Regions from separate parts of the Homo sapiens genome. Here all the other regions are linked to region 2. Evidence: fine-mapped expression QTL. A gene starts in region 2. Each other region holds a variant in brackets. All regions are shown on one strand. Distances are between the middles of the regions.

What was found. PIP is the estimated chance that this variant, and not a neighbour inherited with it, causes the effect.
Region 1: its variant is the best candidate, but not a certain one, in a credible set for the expression of EFNA5 in tibial artery (GTEx, PIP 0.74).
Region 3: its variant is the best candidate, but not a certain one, in a credible set for the expression of EFNA5 in blood mononuclear cells (TOPMed, PIP 0.64).

The regions. Positions count from the first base shown.
Region 1 is chr5:107,235,451-107,243,075 of GRCh38, forward strand. No RefSeq gene overlaps it. Among named protein-coding and RNA genes, the nearest start is that of LINC01950, 230 kb to the left of the region's middle. The variant G/A (reference allele first, on the strand shown) is at 3,068.
Region 2 is chr5:107,668,078-107,673,077 of GRCh38, forward strand. EFNA5 (ephrin A5) reads right to left here and starts at 2,860. Exons shown (of 5, transcript NM_001962.3): 1 at 2,412-2,860. The coding sequence starts at 2,536. RefSeq lists enhancers at 2,013-2,092, 2,493-2,622, 3,333-3,472 and silencers at 2,253-2,322, 2,893-2,942, 4,303-4,372.
Region 3 is chr5:107,497,924-107,505,548 of GRCh38, forward strand. The region is part of intron 1 of EFNA5 (ephrin A5); the gene reads right to left. Among named protein-coding and RNA genes, the nearest start is that of EFNA5, 170 kb to the right of the region's middle. RefSeq lists an enhancer at 1,267-1,768. The variant G/A (reference allele first, on the strand shown) is at 4,130.

The DNA of each region.
Region 1 (7,625 bases), 430 kb before region 2:
GTGCCAACTCTTCCATTTACCATATAGAATTTCCCCTAAATTTGTTAAGAAATAGACGCACCACATAGGCAAAAATGCCATTATCTGCATTTTATTAAGCTCTGTGATTTGATCTTTCAGAAGTATCTGAGCCCACAACAAGATGAATGTCGGGTCTGACAAAAACATGCCAGTGGGATTTTGAAAACCACAGAGAGATTCTATAGGAAATATTAGGAAAGAAGAGGGCAGAAAAAGGTGACCTGGGGAAAAAAGATAGATTCTATAAAATTGGATCCATGCTACGCCTTCCTTATGGCCTTACAGAGTATATGTTGAAAATCCAGAAATCATGTGCACTTTATCCAAACCTGAATTAAAAAAAAAAAACTATAGCTTTATTGGACTAATAAAAACCAGGTAATATGATTGCTGACACAATGGAAAGGTCACATTGGAAACTTTATATTTTACATTTTTCTTCCTTTAGTTCCTGAATTACTTTTTTATAGGTATGGAGGTACCCAATACTCTTTATGGTAACAAAACCATTTTAAAACTTTGAGTCTTTTCACCAATTAAAGAAGCTATTTGCAACATTTCCTTTATTAAGAATATTTTATTTCAGTAATTTTATGTGATGCTATGAAGCATTTGACAGGGTTGAAATTTTTTTTCTTAAAATTTTCCTTTCTTGACATTCAAAATGAGTCTCCTGGTTCAAGACCAGATTCCCTGGATATTATTCCACCATTTCCATCCCAGGTTTCGCTTCCTCCACATGCCCTTTAATGAAAAATTTTGTTTTACCCTCTTCTTGCTCTATACTCTGAGTAATCTCATTCACTTCCATAGCTTTAGCTATCACCTCTAAAATGCTGCTTTCTAGCCCTAACCTCTGTTCTGAACCTCAGATTCAAATTTTTAACTGCTGAACATACATTCATCTACAAAGACGCTACATCATTCATTAATTCAGCTGTCAATTTAACATATGCATTCATTAATTCAGCTGTCAATTTTATTAACATACACATATGTGTATAATATATTATCTTTATTTTCATATTATCTTTCATTAATAAAATTATATATGCATAATATATGCATATAATTTAAAATATAACAACACATATATAGAAATGCATAGTAACATAAATACTGCTTTTTCCCCCTCACATGCTGGTTTTTTTACAACTATATCCTACTGTCTTGCAAACAACAGGCTTCTATAATTGCATATTTTGTTCTCGTTGCTTTCCACAGCACTTTTTGCATAACTTTACCATAATATTTTTATACAGTGAAGCAATTATTCACCTACCTGCCTGTGTCCCCCATTACAAAGATCATTTTAAGTGCAATGAGCATTTTTAAAAATTAATCTTGCATCACTACCATTCAGAAGAGTGCCTAGCACAAAGGAAAAATTCAATCAATGTTGACAAATGGATGAATCAATCATGCAATTCTGATTTTATTATCTTCACCTTTCTCACTGTTACAGTTCTTTAGTTCAAAAGGTACACAATTATAGGCTGGGTGCGGTGGCTTACACCTATAATCCTAGCACTTTGGGAAGTCAAGGCAAGAGGATGACCTGAGGTCATGGGTTCAAGACCAGCCTAGCCAACATGGTGAAAACCCCTCTCTACTAAAATTACAAAAATTAGCGAGGCGTGGTGGTGCATGCCTGTAATCCCAGCTACTCAGGAGGCTGAGGCAGAAGCATCACTTGAACCTGGTAAGTGGAGGTTGCTGTGAGCCGGGATAGTGCCACTGCACTTCAGCCTGGGTGACAGAGTGAGACTCCGTCTCATGATAAAAAATAAAAATTTTAAAAAAGAAGGTACACAATTATAATCTCTCCCACTTGAACTTCATTCATTGTATAATGCACATTTTCCTAAATCTTACAGTTCAAGTTTTATCCTTAGTAAATTGCTCAGTGTCTTTGGAAGAGTGATGACATTTGTTGTCATATGGTTACCAATGTAATGATAGAGTAGAGAATGGCTGATTAATTCTTTGTTTCTGATCAAAGCAGCATAAATATAAGCAGGTCTTTGAGCCCTTCAACAGGCTACAACCTCCCACTAACTCTTTGCATCCAGCCTTCCAATGTAGATTTGGAATTTACAGATCCTTCTGTTTCTTTTCCTCACCTCATCCAAGAGATTTGTTTCTAGTCTGCTACTTTTGATGCTTCATGTCCTCAAAATTTCTCCTGTAATCCAATTTCAACACTTAAAATTCAACAATAATCAAATGGTGTATTTTTCATTACTATATTACTTGGGTAATGTAGTTTAAACATTTTTAAGTCAATTTGAGGAAATGTTAATGAATAAAATTACTGGCTGATGGAGAATGAAAACTATCTCTCAATAATTCACATTCTTATGAAAATAATTCCCCCAATTTTAGCTTTTTCCTTTTAGGTTGCATTTCCCTAGAACTTTCATTCACTCAACAAAGATTGAGCAATGGGCGTGTGCTTAACACTCTGATAACGCAGAAAAAGATATTAAAAAAAAAAAACCCACCCTCATGAAACTTGCATTCTAGTTGGAAGACAAATAATAAACAAAGTAATTAAGTAAAAAGCAAGTAGTTTAAACAATCAAAAGCACTAGGCATCAAAATTAAGCAAAAAAGTGGGGAAAGATGAAGGGGCATGCTTACATGTTGGATAGGGTAGCCAAGAAGTCCTCTCTGGAAATACAACATTTGGGTGAAGATCTGAACAATGTAAGGGAGTAAATGATGCAGATATCTAAAAGAGTATTCTCAACCAAGAGAAAAGCAAGTGCAAAGGGCCAGAGAAGAACGCCTGGTGTATTCCAGGAAATGCATGGAAGCCAATGAAGCTAGAGCTAAGGGAGACAGGTGGCAGATAATGGGTTTGGAGTGGGATGGATGGGTGAGGAAAACAGGGGGCATGACAGATTGAGTAGTCTCTTGTTGATTGTGTGAGAGTTTTGGCTTTACTCTGAGAAAGTTGGAAAGCTATCAAAAGATATTGAGAAAAGGAGAGGCTTTTCCTTATGTTTTAGCAGAAAAAACGTTGATTGCTGCATTGCAAATC[G/A]ACTATAGAAAGGCAAGGTAGAAGCAGGAAAACTAGAGGGCATTGAAATAATCCAGGCAAGAGAGGCCAGTGGCTTGGTCTAGAGTAGTAGAGAGGACGTGATGAGAAGCAGTTGGATTAGGGGTATTTTTTAAGGGTAAAGGCAAATTTTTTTCCCAGATTGGATGCAGTGTATCATAGTCTAGATATATAAAACCAAAGCCCCCACCCAAACATCTACAATGATATAATCAATTTCAAGCAGCATTTTAAAATCTTTCTTAAAGCTCCCACTCATTTCCACAACCAGTCTGTCACAAAATTCAGCCTTTTCCAATTCTGAAATATTTTCAAATCTTTCCCCTCCTCGCATGCCAACCACTCTACTTAAGGAACCTCATTATTTCTTCCCTGACAATTGCTATAATTTTTTAATGGGCTTTCTGGTTTCCAGTTTCTCCCATCTCTAACCCATCCTCCTCTAGGCTATCAGAACTGCATTGCCAAAACACAGACCTAACTGTGTCCCTCCTTTGTTTAAAATCTTCATTAAAGCTGCACTGCTACAGAGCAAGTCCCATAGCCCTACCTCTTCAGCCGCACCACCCAAAAACCCAAACACATCTATTCCACAAATCTTCCACATCCAAGTATGTGTTTGCCTTTGCTCATTCTGTACCTTCATTTGAATTCACTTTGCTTTAATATCACTGTCTCCCTGACCCATCCACTCAGGCCTGAAAAAAACACTCTGTTCAATCCATCCCTGTAGCCCCATGACACCATTTATAGGCACAGCAGGACAGCTATGACTCTATATTATGGCTAGAGGTCTGATATGGTTTGGCTGTGTCCCCACCCAAATCACATATTAAATTGTAGTTCCCATAATCCTCATGTGTTGTGGGAGGGACCCAGTGGGAGGTAATTGAATCATGGGGACAGTTTCCCCCATGCTGTTTTCATGATAGTGAGGGAGTTCTCATGAGATCTGATGGTTTTATAAGGGCCTTTTCCCCATTTTTCTCAGTACTTGTCCTTGCTGCCACCATATGAAGAAGGGAGTGTTTGCTTCCCTTTCTGCCATGACTGTAAGTTTCCTGAAGCCTCCCCAGCCATGCTGAACTGTGAGTGCATTTAACCTCTTTCCTTTATAAATTACCCAGTCTCAGGTACATCTTTATCAGCAGTGTGAGAATGGACTAATACAGTAAATTGGTACCGGTACAGTGGGATGCTGCTATAAGGATACCTGAAATGTGGAAGCGACTTTGAAACTGGGTAATAGGCAGAGGTTGGAACAGTATGGAGGGCTCAAAAGAAGACAGGGAAATGTGGGAGAGTTTGGAACTTCCTAGAGACTTGGAGGGCTCAGAAGACTTTTTGAATGGCTTTAACCAAAATGCTGATGTGGACAATGAAGTCCAGGCTAAGGTGGTCTCAGATGGAGATGAAGAACTTGTTAGGAACTGGAGCAAAGGTGACTTTTGCTATGCAAAAAGACTGGTGTCATTTTGCTCCTGCCCTAGAGATCTGTGGAACTTTGAACTTGAGAGAGATGATTTAGGATATCTGGCAGCAGAAATTTCTAAGTGGATATCATTCAAGAGGAAGCAGAGCATAAAATTTTGGAAAATTTGCAGCCTGATGATGTGACAGAAAAGAAAACCCCATTTTCTGGAGAGAAATTCAAACTGGCTGCAGAAATTTGCATAAGCAATGAGGAGCTGAATGTTAATCACCAAAAAAATAGGGGAAAATGTCTCCAGGGCATGTCAGAGACCTTTGTGGCAGCACCTCCCATCATAGGCCCAGAGGCCTAGGAGAGAAAAATGGCTTCCTAAGATGGGCCTGTGGCCCCCTTGCTGTGAAGAGCCTAAGGACTTGGTGCCCTGAGTCCTAGCTGCTCCAGCCATGGCTAACAGGGGCCAAGTTACAGCTCAGGCCATTGCTTCAGAGTGTGCAAGCCCCAAGTGTTTGCAGCTCCCTCCCATGAGCTTGTGGGTGCAAAGAAGTCAAAATTGAGATTTGGGAACCTACCCCTAGATTTCAGAGGATGTATGGAAATGACTGGATGTCCAGACAGAAGTCTGCTGCAGGGGCAGAGTCCTCATGAAGAACCTCTGGCTAGGGTAGAGCTGGAGGGAAATATGGGGTCAGAGTCCCCACACAGAGTCCCAACTGGGGCACTGCCTAGTGGAACTATGAGAAGACGACCACCGTCTTCCAGACTCCAGAATGGTAGATCCACCAATGGCTTGCACTGTGAGCCTGGAAAAGCTGCAGGCGCTCAATACCAGCCTAAGAAGCAGTCAGAAATGGGGCTGTAACCTGCAAAGCCGTAGGGGCGGAGCTGCCCAAGGCTGTGGGATTCCACCTCTTATACCAGTGTGCCCTGGATGTGAGACATGGAGTCAAAAGAGATCATTTTGGAACTTTAAGGTTTCATGACTGCCCTATTGGATTTCAGACTTGCATGGGGCCTGTGGCCCCTTTGTTTTGGCCAATTTCTCCCATTTGGAGCAGGTGTATTTCCCCAATGCCTGTAACGCCATTATATCTAGGAAGTAACTAACTTGCTTTTGATTTAGCAGGCTCATTGGTAGAAGGGACTTGCCTTGTCTCAGATAAGACCTTGGCCTTGGACTTTTGGTTTAATGCTGGAATAAGTTGAAATTTTAAGGGACTGTTGGAAAGGCATAATTGTATTTTGAAATGAGAGGACATGAGATTTGGGAGGGGCCAGAGATGGAATAATATGGTTTGGCTGTGTGCCCCCACTTGAATCTCATCTTGAATTATAGTTCCCATAATCCCTGGGAGGGACCTGGTTGGAGGTAATTAAATCATGGGGGCAGTTTCCCCCACGCTATTCTCATGATAGTGAGTGAGTTCTCATGAGATCTGATGGTTTTAGAAGGGGCTTTTTCCCCTTTTGCTTAGCACTTCTCCTTGCTGCCGTCATGTGAATAAGGTTGTGTTTGTTTCCCCTTCTGCCATGATTGTAAGTTTCCTGAGATCTCACCAGCCATGCTGAACTGTGTATCAATTGAACCTCTTTCCTTTATAAATTACCTAGTCTCATTTATGTTTTTATGAGCAGTGTGAGAACAGACTAATACATGGTCTGACCGTCTCCCATTCTATTCACTGTAGATAATGCCTAGTACATAAAAGATGCTTCAACAAATATGACAGAGTCAAAACCTATGGTAAATAAAAATATGTGTCTTATGCTTTTCCAAGCTTCCTTTGTCCTGGGCTTACACTAAGGCAGCCCAATGACTACCCCTTTCAAATTATATTATAGCAATATCTACCTATAAAGATCTACACCAGTCATACAGAGGGATGCTCCCCAGGAAGGAGCCTAAAAGTGTCTAAGCAAATAGCTTTCTCTCATTCCTCACCATTTGTGATAATCTGAATCGTTTGTCAGTGTTAAACAAATTACTTCATGAACTCTCTTCTCTAGACTGCCTCCACATTCTTATTCCTTTTAGTCTAGTGGTTATTTTTCTGCCTTCTTCACTAATTCCTATTTTTCTCTTAACATGCAAATCCTCATACACTGTCATCATACTTTTAATCTGCCATTATTATTGGTTTCTTTGCAGATGTTAATGACTCATAAACCTAAAGCTATACCCTGACCTTTCACCTAATCTCCCATCTTGCATTTCCAGATTCCTATATTGCTCAGATGCCAAACAACATTCACTGCATCTTCATTACCCACTTCAGGTCTTCTCTCCAATTATCCCTTTTTGTCTGAGGTAACTACTATTCTAATTTCTCAGCTTAAAATATTGAGGTTATCTTTGTATCTTTCTTTTAATTCATGCTTTACATCTAAATTAATAAGTATTTTTCCAAAATTCTTTGTGTTCTTTATTGTATCAACTCTGGACTCAGCTGTCATTATTTTATCTGGGCAAGAGCAGCTCAACTGGCCCTATTCACTCCAGAATCTTCCTTTTCTTCCTCCTCTTGCCTATGCCTGAAAGACTAATTAGGGAAATAATGCAAGCTGTTGTCTGCAGGTTAATCCTAAAATCACAATGGCTTAACACACCCACACACACTCAGGTTACACTTCAATACAGATGTCTCTAGTCATGCAATCTCCATTCAGGAATTCAAGATCTTTCTACCTTGGGGCTCCACCTACCTCTAGGTCTTCAGAAAGCCTCCATTCAGCCATCAGGTAGGGAGGACATGCCCTCTTCTTAACCACTTTGGCAGCGAGATGACACACTTACATCACTTCCGCCCACTTTCACTGGCCAAAACCCAATCACATAGCCTCACATAACCAAGAGAAAGACTGGAAAATTAGTCTAGTCATGTTCTCAGGAAGAGCAGAAAATGAATATTAGTAAATGCAAAGCAGTCTCTGCTACATTCATCTTTCTAAATCAGGACTCACACCCTTTCCCAAGGACAAAGTTTTAAAAGAATGAAGTCCAAGTCCCAGCCTCAATGTCAAGGCCTTCATAATATGAAGCCACTGGTGTTTGGGAGGAGGATAAATTGCCTGGAGTCCTACTCCGTTATGCAGTGAAGAGAGATGACTTTT
Region 2 (5,000 bases):
TAACATACCAAGATAAATGTGTCCATAAATTCCTAAGAATAATAAGTGTTAGGGCTGTATCTCTTGGGGTTAAGAGGGGTACATCATTCTTTCTTTTGGCCATTATCAAACTGATAATGATCAAATAGAAAGGTAATTCTACAAACCTGAAGTTAGAATACCGATTTAGAAATACTCTTGGTATTTTAAAATTCTGCAGATTAACTTTGTCTGGGCAGGTTCAAAGCCTCCATGGCATCCTGAGCAGAAGAGTTTTCTGCAGGCAGGGCAGATCTATTAAAAAACATGACCTGTGACAAAAATCAATGTGCTAATCTCAAACCAAACAACAGTATCAAAAGCACAAAACAGAGATAACCTAAGATAAAATGTCCTCAAACTAACTCAGACTAGCTTGACAGGTTAAGAAGGGGGGTTAAAGTAGGGGTGTTGCTGGTTCTTTCCGTTTTAACCCAGGAAGACTGGAACACCCAAGTATCCAAATAAATGAATGCCATGAGAAAAAGATCACAATGTGGAGCTTGGTGTGGGAAAGAAAAGACAACCGAGAGCAAGATATCCCAAATTCAAAGAAACTATTTCAGTGTTGCTTTATTTAATAAGGTGCTAAAGTTCAGAGATACAAATTTCTGCTTCGTATATGCTGCCTAATAAAGCACAAACGGGGAAAAAAAACTAACCAACATAATGAGACTGGCTTTTAACACCATCACAACTGGAAAGCTTGCTCTATTTGTCTTGTCAGCTTTAATAAAAGGCATCTCTCCTCTGGCAGGATGGCTTCTTTTTCTCTTTTCCTAATAGTGGTAAGTGGCATGTCAAAGAAGAAATCGCTTCCCATTCCACCACCCACCTCCAGGAGACTCTTGTTTTTTGAACCAAACTTTCAGGAATATCTCCACTCCTGTTCAGCGGTTCATTTAGGACTTGGGCGGCTACCTGAGTAAGACTATCTTGGACTAGCGGGATAGGGGGAACTCCCTCCTGGTTCTGTAACCGGCGGACTGCTTGTGGGGAAATCTTCCCATCTTCATCTGCGCTGACATTATTCAAGCAGGGAATCCCTCTCTTGCCTGCATGCTGAGGGGAGGCTGGAGGCAGGCGGAGAGGGCCCGCAGGAGATAGAAAAAACTGGAGGCGCCCACCGATACCCTCTCTCCTGGAGCCCGGGGCGCGCACCAACTCTTAGGCTAACCCCTCGGCCTCCCGCCTCTCTCTTCCCAACTTCCACTCCAGCCCAGTGAAAAACCTGTGACTTTAGATGCAATCGGTACTATTAATAAATAGCACCTAGGAGGGCACCGAGACCGGCACACAGCTGGAAGCTAGCCTCTGTCCCAGAGAAAGCAGTGCGGTATGGGCCTAGCGGGGCCGACTTCTGTGCACAGGCCGGGAAGCAATAAAGGTTCGGAACTGCTCCAGACCCGGAGGACCCCGCCGGGCACTCTGGATAACCTCCCCACTCCACTTCCAGGGTCCGAAAACACGGGACGTCTGCGACTGGCCGGTGTCCAGCACGCGCACTAGGACCGCCCCCGGCGCCCACCTCTAGTCTCCCGCATACCCGGCGGGCTTCGGGACGCCTACAAATCGGTTCCAGGTAATCGCGCGCGTTCCTCCGGCAGCACATCGCCAGGCCGCGGGCGAAGGGCTCCCACCTCCTGGCTCGGCCAACTCTGGCAGCTTGTTCTGCACACATGACGTAACCCGGCATTAGATCAAACTTTCTGGCACCTTGAACCCACTGGGGTGGGTGGAGGGATGGAGAAGATGGGAGAATCCTCTCCACTGCCAGGCGCGCCGGGCCCAGACTGACTCAGGGGCCGAATGATTTCCTCGCAGTTGAAGAGGAAAATAAAAACCTAAAGCTTCCGCTTCCCAGCCCCCCTCACTTCCCCCAGCCCGTGCGCTCTCTCTGCGCGCACCGGGAAAAGAGAAGGGAAAATTAAAATTAAAAAAAAAAAAAAAAAAAAAAAAACTTTGGGGGATGTTTGGCGGGTTCTCTCCGCAGTCCCTGCGGACCCACGCTCCAGGAAGGAGCTCCCGGCTGCGCACACTGGGGGCTCCCCGCGCCGGGAACCGGATGCCAGCCAGATGCCGGGGCTGGGAAGCAGAGAAGTCCCTACTCCCCGGCTCCCGCCCTTTTCCGAGTCTCCCGGCGCCCCGCAGAAGCAGTTGGTCTAGGCAGCCCCGGGGACTCCCAGGGGTACCTGGCCTTTCCGCGGCGGCTTAACAAAGAGGGGCGCGACGCGAGCGCTTCCCGCCGACGCCTCAAGCCATCAGCGCCCGGGCGACGCAGGCTCCGAGGGTGCGCGCCGCCAGCGGTTGGTGCGCGCCGATCCCCGCCGCCGCTCCTTCCGCAGGGCCCCGAGGCCCGGGTAGCCCTGGCTCTCCGCCTGTTATCGGCTTACCTGGGGTTGCTGCTGTTCCAGTAGACAGCGTAGCGGTCGGCGACGGCCTTGGAGCCCGGGTCCTGGCTGAACACACACATCCAGAGCACCAGAAACACCAGCGTCAACATCTCCACGTGCAACATCACGCCTGGCCAGCGGCGGAGCCCCCGACGCGCCACTCCGGGGAGAGAGCGGGGATCCGGAGGGAGGGAGGCAGGCAAAGGGACAGAGAGAGAGCGGGCGCCAAATAAATATGAATAAATAAAAATGAAAGTGGGCGAGAAAGGAAAGAGGCGCCCACCAAGCTGGGGAGGGGTAGGAGAGCGAGAAGAAAAGAAGGCGGTGGGATGGGGGGTGATAAAGACAAACTCGCACCCCCACTGGAGGGTTCAGGAGGAAAAAGGAATCACAAGATGGAGAGAAGCGTGCGTGTGTGTGGTGGCGGCGGCGAGGGCGGGGGAAGAGGTGCCAAGCTGTGTCTCGGGCGGCGGCGGCAGGCCGGTCACCCCGGGAGAGGGAGGTGCGCGCCGGGCCGGGCGGCTGCAGCGCGGGTCGGGGCAGGCGGCGGCGCGCGCTGCACAGTCACCGGGAGTTGCGCGCCGCAGCCGCGGGGAGACATACACCGGCCCGCCGGGCCCGGCTCAGCGTCGGCGCAGCAGGCTACGCACGGCTCCGCCACCGCCCGGGGCCCTCGCACTGCGCCACGCTTCGCTCCAAGTTACTTTGGCGGCCGGTGGGAAACTGCAGGAGAAGGGCGACGTGCTGATAGAGGGCTTCGCGCTTGTGGTCCCGGGAGTCTGAGAACCCCTTTCCTCAGCCTCCTCTGTGCCTTAGCGGGGCGACCCCCAGAAATCTCAGAGGAGTCGTAAGTGCTGCGGTACCGGGCGGTGCGCCGAGAAGGGTGGGGATCCGGAGCCGCAACCCAGCCTTGTCGGTGTCCTGGAACTGGTTAAGCGGCAGCTGCGCCGGCTTTCGAAGCGGTCTTGCCTCGAAAACCTCAAAGAAAAGTTTGGCTCTTCGCGTCTTCCGGCAGGTCCCCCAGCAGAGTCGGAACGCGGCGGTAGCGGAAGAGGGCACCCCGGGGGCTGGCCGAGCCTCGGGGATTTCTCGCGCGTGCTTTCCTTGGCTGGGTGTGGGTGCACCACAGTGAATGAAGAGCAGAGGTTAAGACCAGCCGGCCTGGCAGAGCTGGGATTCCTAAACCTGCAAGACGACGCCAACCCAACTGTTCGGCTGGAGAGCGGGAGGGGAAACAATCACTTTCAAATGGATCCCTCCAACTCCTGGATGGGCCGATGTCAGTCTCCGATCGCCTTCCGAGAGGGAGACTGAGCCCCCACACGCGGTGCCAAGAGCCCGGGGTGAGCTCTCAGAAGTGTCCCTGCGACTCCAGCGGGTCCAAGCCTAGCAACTTGTAGAGATGCATCAATCAGTTTGAAATGGGAAAAGAGGAAAAAAAAAAAGCGCACGAGCGAGTGGCACCTCCCCGATGACTACATCAGAAAACCTTCCCGATCCTCCCGCAGCTGCTCCTCTTTCCCTCCTTAGGCACAGCAGCAACAGAGGTGAAAACCACAAACCGAATCCTAAAACCCCTACCCAGGCGGGAAAATAAATAAACTTGAGTGCAGCAGCAGCAGCACGAGCAGCCCAGGAGGAATTGAAACGACTGGCAAGAAGTGGAAAGGGTTTTGTAAAAGTCAGTTTTGCAAAAGAGGGGGAAAAAAAGAGAGCGAGAGAAAAAATGCTTTATGGGAAAAAAAATCTCCTCGGGCACGCCCCCTCGTTAATGACTTGCGTGGAAAGCCGACAGCGGCGGCGACCCAGTGGCAGCAGCCTCAGCAGAGCGCGAGGCCGCACGCGTGAACGTGGACGTGGGCGGGGGGATGGGGCTCCGCCCGGGCGTGTTGCGCGGGACGCGGGACGGGCGGGCGGCGCGAGCGCGGGTGTGAGCTCCGGACGAAGCAGGGGGAGGTGCCGCCAGCCCGCGCCCAGCCAGCGCTGCTGCCGCTGCGGCCCGGGTCATGTGGACTGTCTTTTTTTTTTTTTTTTTTTTTTTCCTCCTTCCAAGCAGTTTACTTGGGAAGGGTGGGAGCGCGGTGGGGGGATAGCTGGAGCAACCAGTCAGGGAACGGCCTACTGTTTGCTTACAGATTGGGGGTTTTTCCTCTCTCTTTACTCCAACCGGATTGGTTTGCTCCACGAGAAAGAGGCGTTTTCCTAATCTCCCTTCCCCACGCCTCCTACCCCCTCCCCCGCCCCACCTTCTAGAAACCTGACTAATTGAATTACTGGGAGTGCCGAGGCGCCCTCTCCTGCGCCGGAGCCCGGCAGCCACGTGTAACCCTTTGGGTGCTGAATTCCGTCTGGGCTAAGGAATGATTTGACATCTTTTTACCTGGGAGTAGGGTCTTTCGATTTTAAAGGAACCTGTGCCCACCCTTTGGCTGGAGAGCCGGCATCTGTCTCTGGTGCCCCGCAGGTGACGGATGGGCTGGAACGGAGCCTCAGGGAGTGCGCGTTCCTGTCCATTCCACCCGCTCTCCACGCCGCACGCTGCCTGGCGCTGGGTTATCTGGAAGTCTGAGCACCCCTCCTGTGCCTTTC
Region 3 (7,625 bases), 170 kb before region 2:
ATTATTTTTTGAGACGGAGTCTCAATCTGTCACCCAGGCTGGAGTGCAGTGGCGCGATCTCGGCTTACTGCAGCCTCGGCCTCCTGAGTTCAAGTGATTCTTCTGCCTCAGCCTCCCAAGTAGCTGGGATTACAGACATGTGCCATCATGCCCAGCTAATTTTTGTATTTTTAGTAGAGACGGGGTTTCACCATGTTGGCCAGGCTGGCCTTGAGCTCCTGACCTCAAGTGATCCGCCTTTCTCGGCCTCCCAAAGTGCTGGGATTACAGGCGTGAGCCAACAAGCCCGGCCTACAATTTATCTTTATATGGTACAGTGACAGTTTCAATGCAAATATAAGAGCATTTAACTTACATGTGGAATAATATGACACAACCTTTTTTCATAGCTCATACACGTATATTTATTTCATTCTTACTAGGGCAGTGGAAACACTACACAACTAACTCAACTGAAACTCACTCACAAATTTCTTGATTCATGCATATTATACCAACACACTACAGGAACAGACAGCTTCCATAATCCACTTACTTTCTACTCCCCTGGAGCTTCCCTGGACCCCCACACATCATAGTCTATCAGAATTCTGTATTTGTGAAAAACTGTGAATGTGATATGCAGATAGTGCCACAATGGACAAACAAACATATCACACATCGCCTCGGCTCATGAAGATGCTCCATTTATGAAACACTAGTTCAAAGATAAAATTCAGAATTTTGAGACAGTGACAGCGGAGCCTTAAGCCAAGTATGGGGCCCTTCTGAGCTCAGGGCCCTGTGTGACAGCACAGGTTGAATGCCATGAAGCTAGCCCTGCACCTCAGACCTCTGGCCAATATGCTTAGAGGGACTATTCCTGAATACTAATAATGAGGCTTTCCAAGGAGGTAGGTTTGATGCCAATGTACACACTGTGATAAGGCTGCAGGGGATAGACTACATATGGTGATTACCCTGTAAATTACCTGTTCATATAGTTTCCCCAGGTTGTGTCGTTGGGGCCTGTGCTTTTCTTTATGTATATAAGTATGTATGTATGTATGTATGTATGTATGTATGTATGTGTATCAGCCAAAGGAGTCTTTGATTTCTTTTACTGTGAGATTTCCATTGGAAACAGACACCTGCTTTGCTCTCTTCTCCTTTTTCATTATCATAACCAAATAGCAAGCACATAGATTTTGGTTAGTCATTCTAAATCGAAAGACACAAATATATATAGGAAGATGTCAAAAAAAGAGAAGAAAGATGAAATTTTTTTTTAAATCGGGAGAAAGTAAACATACCCTCAATACTTAAATCTCCCACAATGCACAACAATAAACCTGCCCTGATATGGGCACTGCCAGGGATATACTCTTCTCCCTTTCTGTCTCTGAGTAACAACAGGTTGCAACTAGTTTGAATTAAAGAGCCTGCATCTGCAGCCAACAGCTGGAATTCGGCAACTGTTGTTAATCCACCTTAATTGCTTATTATTCTATGAGTCCTTGTTTGTGCTTTTGTTATTCAAAGTAATTTTCCCTACATGCACATACTACCAAGCATGGTTTTAGCAAGCTGTGGCCAAAGAATTCCTGTGTTTCCATCCTAGGGCTGTCATTGTTTTCTTTTGAAACAAAAACATATTGACACTGGATTTTTTTAAAGGGTTAGCAAGTTAGCAGTGATGCCCACAGATGGACTAGCATTGGCCTATATGTGCACAGAGATACAGGTATTAGCCAACGTCTAAATAAGAACAAGTCTTCTTTTGGTGTTTTAATTAGAGCTGCAGTTAGCAGGGTTGCTATTTTCCCTAAACAATTCTTCCCCTCCTTGAGTTAGGGAGGGATTTTCACTCCACCACTTCATTGCACTAGTGAATAAATGAGATCCCAGGGTTCCAGGGAGAAAAAAAATTACCAATATAAATGCATCAGGTGCAAATTACCAAGGTAAATAGGCCCATGGAGACTGTAAAGCTAGCAACACCAACTGGAATATCTGAGAGGGGCCAGCAGGAGAAAGCCCATGGGTCACAGTCTCAGTTCTGCAGTGTACTGTGTGTGTTTCAACCCGGATCATTCATCCTGCAGCCTGCAGAAAGGAATCCACAGCACAAAGCAGTTGTGATTTGGCATTGACAGTGTTCTAACTAATGCTTCAGTTGTAGCTTTTCTATTCCCCTCTCTTTTTATTCACCCAAATGCCACTCTTGGATAGTGTCAAAGCAGAACCTCCATTGTGAGAGACCAATGCAATATAATATCTCCAACTATAAGTTGATCATTAGTAATTATTTGTTCCCTGGAACTATTTATAATCTGCAATAAGGAAAAACTGCCACAAACATCACTATTAACTGTGGTCTGTAGGGCACGAAGGCTGATCTTTTACGTTTTCCCTACAATGTATACGTATATCTGCTAAAGAAAGTATTTGTAGCTCTGCATTTCTTCTTTCTGTTGCTCTTTACTGCAAAGTCTTTCTTGTTCTGTAATAATTTTGCCAGGGTAAGCCTAGTCCCACTGTAAGCTTCACATAAAGCAAAGACCTGTCATATACTTGTCTCTCCCAGAGTGCAGCACTATTTACTGACCTGAGTTCAATTTTTTTCTAGAAGAGAGCAGGCAAGGCTTTCCATTAGCCTGGCTTTGTTTCCACCCAACCCTATCCTCATATGGTGTGGCTGTCTCACCTCTTACCCTCTTATACATGTAGCCTGAATGCACACTTGTTAGTCTTATTTATTACCCTATTTGTGTACTGAAGCACATGTCCCTTAAAAATTAGCCTGCTCTACCCTGACTGGAACATGAAATTCTGCAGGCATCTGAGCATATATTCAAATATAATAAAAGGGCTATATTATAACAAAGGTCTTTAAGGGATATTTGCCTGGCCCTTAAATCACCTTGACTTTGTTTCTTCAAATAGCAAGTACCTAAAAAATATTCATTAAAAAAAAACAAAACAAAAAGGTTTCCTGTGAACATTTCAGCCAGGATTGTTCATCCTGAAGCCTGCAGGAAGAAACCTGTGAACAAGTGAGTGGGAGAATTCACAGTGGAGTCAGCTCCAGCTCCTAACTCTTACTATTTATTCATACCTGGTGTCGTCTTGGTTTTATGCTTCCTGTTTTAGAGCATGCATCAGGCTAGATAAGGACATATTGTGTGCATAGTATAAACTAATATGAGGACAACTTCTACAAGCCTTCTACAGCATATAGATCAAGTGTCATTCTTAAAGCCACAGGCCCTTGTTAAAACAATTTATTTGCATGGATTAAGCCTCACTTATAGATATTGACTCAACTATATGATTTTGTAAATATTTTTTTAAAATATTCTGTTTCTTACTTAGGATATTTCTTACCTCCTGCACAACACAACATCAACTATACAATCAATAAGATACAGTCTTTAGCTACAAATTAAGCTTCTTATTTTATCTGTGTAACAATCATTATGTGGTTTAATGATGATCTGCAGTCTTAAATACATTATATACTGTTATATCAGAGATGACATAAAAGTACAGATATTATAGCTTATGAAATCAGCCCCTCCTTAATCAGTTTGGCAATAAACCAAATTGCCCTGATTTAGCAAAGAAATTCTCAGAAACTATTTTTCTCATTCAACATTTGTGATTTTAATTCTTTAAAAAATATTTCAGTGTCTTATTTTGCACAACCATTCACTATTTGTTTGAAAAACTTAAAACTGTAATATCATTTTAATACAGTCATTATAAACTAAAAGTTAAGATACATACTATCGGCTACATTTCTGTTGTGGTATTTTAAGCCTCACTTTGTTGAAGCAGCAATTATTTTCATAACCTGAATTAACGAATGCTGATTTTGTACGTGAAAAGATGGACAGAAATGTCACACTTTAATTCACGCCATTAAACAAACAAAAAACGGCCATAAGGTCAAAATAATAGAACTAGATGAAAAAAGTAGTCGATCTAGAATCCTGTGAAATTTTCTCTGATTTAAACTGTTTCTTGCCTTAAAGAAAAGTACTGCAGCTGTGATACAACTATGAGCCCTCCTCCCTTTAAAAGCTGATGTCAGTGAGAAATACCCCATCTGATGGGTTTTCAAGATGTACACCGGGCATTGCCTACG[G/A]AAGTTAGTTAATTACACCAACCTGCGGCTGTTAGCAATGAGGACTGCCCCTCTTCACCCAACGTAGGGCAGAAACCAATCCTCTCAGTTCACCGATCTAATTCCAGTTTTCAGGCACACTGGCCATCCACTGCCTCCTTCCCTTCCCTCTCCAACTCTTAGAAAACGAAATGCAGTTAATTTATGTTCATTTTATCCATTTCCTCTCATGACTCACTGCAACAGGAAACTGCCGTCTCTGTTGTGTTTAGACCAGTCTCGTCTTAGCCACGAGCTAACAGTATCATCATTTAGAAAGATCCCTCATCATGCCACAGTCAACATCAAACTGTTCCTCGACATTCTGAATTTATCTAGCACATCTTCCCTATCTGATGCAAATGAACCGGCAATCATTTTAGGAAGCAGTGCCTTAAAGAATTGTGATCCTGACACAATTGCTGTGGCGGTTTACTCATTACATTACGAAGCACAGCTGTATCTTGTTGTTTCATCTGTGGGGCTTTTGACAGCACATAACTGCTGAAAAGCATGTACATGGGGTTGATATATACACACACATACATACATACTCAGGACGTGCAAAGGAGAACGTGGCCGTGCTCGAAGTGTATCAAACTATGACTTCTAAATTCCTTTCCATCAAATGCCAGTAGAAGCACTTGATAAATGGACCCTAGGAGAGCACTTCTCATTGCCTCAGGATGGAACGACTCGCAGGCATACGACACTCCATCAATACAGAGAGCTGGCAGATTGAAAGGCGGGAAGGACTATCTCTGATACGGTGCATCTGCTTACTAATAGCAGCAGCACTCCAACCCTCTTCCCATTCATTGCCTACAGGAACCACTCCTCAGAGAGGCACGCCAGTCAACAGATGGTCTCTGGCTAAGGTGTAATCAGGAGCAGCTTGCTAAATTTACCCAAAACAAATAGAATTACAGGCTTTTGCCCGAGTCTGAAATTGAATTGAGAACTTGGGTGGTGGATAATGGAAGCTAAAATGGAAGAGCTCAAAATGCATCACAGCATGTTGGGAAAGGGCGGGCACAGGGTGCAGTTTCAGCTGTGAACTCCACTGTTTACTACCAGGTCATCTATTGCCAATAAACTTGTCTACTATGCAGGATCGTTTCCCCTCAAGATCAAAGCTTCCAGGATTGGTAAAATTGTCACCAGTTAATGAAGTCATCTGCCTTCGGTGCACAGTGAACAAAATACTACCTGATGTTTTGAATATGTTTTGCCCAGTTGCAATGCCTTCACGTAAAATGTCAACAGTTCTAACCATCCTACTTTCATTAGCAGTTTTTATGTCCACTAAAAATCTGTCATTCAAAAGGTAAGAATCATTAAGGATTCTGAATAATGTGATCTTCTAAGAAGAGGTGTTCCGATGTCTATCTCCAGAATTCCTCGCTGTTTTCAATCATTCGTTGCTCAGAATACAGGCAACATAAAGCCTCAGAAATTGCCTGAAAAAGTCAGCATAAAATTAAGAGTAAATCATTTAACCTATGGCTATGTTTCACTACTTACGTAGTAAGAACTGTGCCACCCACACAAATCACTGTATCATGAAGCTTTAAAAGTAAATGAGGCAAAATATGTAAAAGCACTTAAATTATAAAGAGATAAGGTCTTAAGGATAAGGCTATTTGTAACCCAAGCTATCAGCAGTCACTTTAAAATTATTATCTTCATAACCATTAATATTTTTTATTACTAAATTGTTTACCCATTAAAAAGGCCATTAAAAAATTAAAAATTTCAGTTTCTAATATTTTATTGTTTTCTAATCTTCTTTGGAAATAAAAAGATGTGTATTTTGTATTTTACATCATTCAGTATTTGCAATGCAGAGCTTTTAAAATGTATTACAGCATGCATTGAATTAGCTACCTTTAAACTAATAATCAGGCAATTCTCCTCATTCTTCATGACTTAAAATCCCATTATGGAAAATTCACTTTTATACATCAATCAGTCTAACATTTTCAAACATCAGTTATATAAGAAGTATCTGAAGTACCTCCTATTTTCTTCGAGCATTTTGTTGTAAGGAACTCTGCCATGCAGAGAAGGAATCCCAAAAGAAAGGTCTTTTTTGTTCAGGATGAAAGTATTTAAAGAGAGGGTATTTTTTAAATTAACTAAAAAAAGAGCTTCATTCTTAAGGTTTGAATTACAGACTGACAAGGGCTAAAATATCTTTTAACATAATTATTTTTTAAAGTAACTGACTTGAAATGAAACTAGCATTTTTCTTAAATGAATGCTGTTAAGTAAAGCAAAATGTGTCCCTACACTCGAAGAGGATACATTTTTAGTGATATGTTATATATATAAAAAAGAACTAGATGCTAAAGCTACCTTACTAAAATATGTGTCTTCTCTATTTGGAGCTTTATCTGCTATTCTCTCTTCTTTTATAGAAATAGAAAATGCATTATTAATGTACAAATAATATGCATGCTTATAGGAACAAACATTTTGAGCTGCAGAATAAACTAATGAAAAGAGCACAGACAGATACAGATATCTAATTACTACATTACCCTGGGCAAATCATTTAACTGCTCTATGATTCAGTCTGCCCATCTGTAAAATCAGTGGAACAGCTTCCCTACCTATCCCCAAGATATTTGGTAGGAGTACATGAAAAAGTGTTGTCGAAGCCTATTTAGGCACCAAGCTTAAAAGGTCTGGCACATGTTTGTGAAAGTACAATTATAATGATTTTCATTACTATTCTAGTAGACTCTGAATTTTAATCTTTAGGAATAACCCTAATTATTTTATTTTAAAATGCTTCAAAAATATAGCTATAACAGAAAAACCTGTCATATAACTAGTAGTAAAATTTTGGCCCTATAATATCATCCTATTTATTATTCAATTATTGCTTCAATAAACCAATGTATGTATAAAAGGTAGCCTTTGTTTTTCCGTATCTTTAATGCAATTTGTTCTGAAAAACTACTGTGACATTAATAATAAAGGACAAGCTCTGTAAAGAAAAGGTGCCTAACAAAAACTTGGCAATGATCTCCATTCAAAGCAAAAATGCTATGAATTTTAAGATAAGGGACCTGTTATATGTTAAGTAAAAATATTCGTAGTTTATAATTTGTGAAGCAGTAGGCATTGCATAACTCTGAGAAAAAATGCTGTTCATTATATGAATGGCAATTTCAAATAATATCAAATGATTTAAGTTCAAAGGACTTAGGAAAGCTTCATGGCATCCTGTTATTAATTTCACAAAAATTTCTTTAGAAAAGAAACTGAGTCCTACATGAAAAATGTAAAACTACAAGGTGCACTGTGTACTGATTCTCCATGCAACAAATCTGCAAACATTGCCTAGGGCATGCTATATGGGAAATCTGGACAGCTGGAAATCATAGTAGACAAGGAGATTTAGGTCATTGATCTCAGAATTGGAAAATTTCCCCTAGTGAGCCAATATGAATCTGGCACATATCACTGA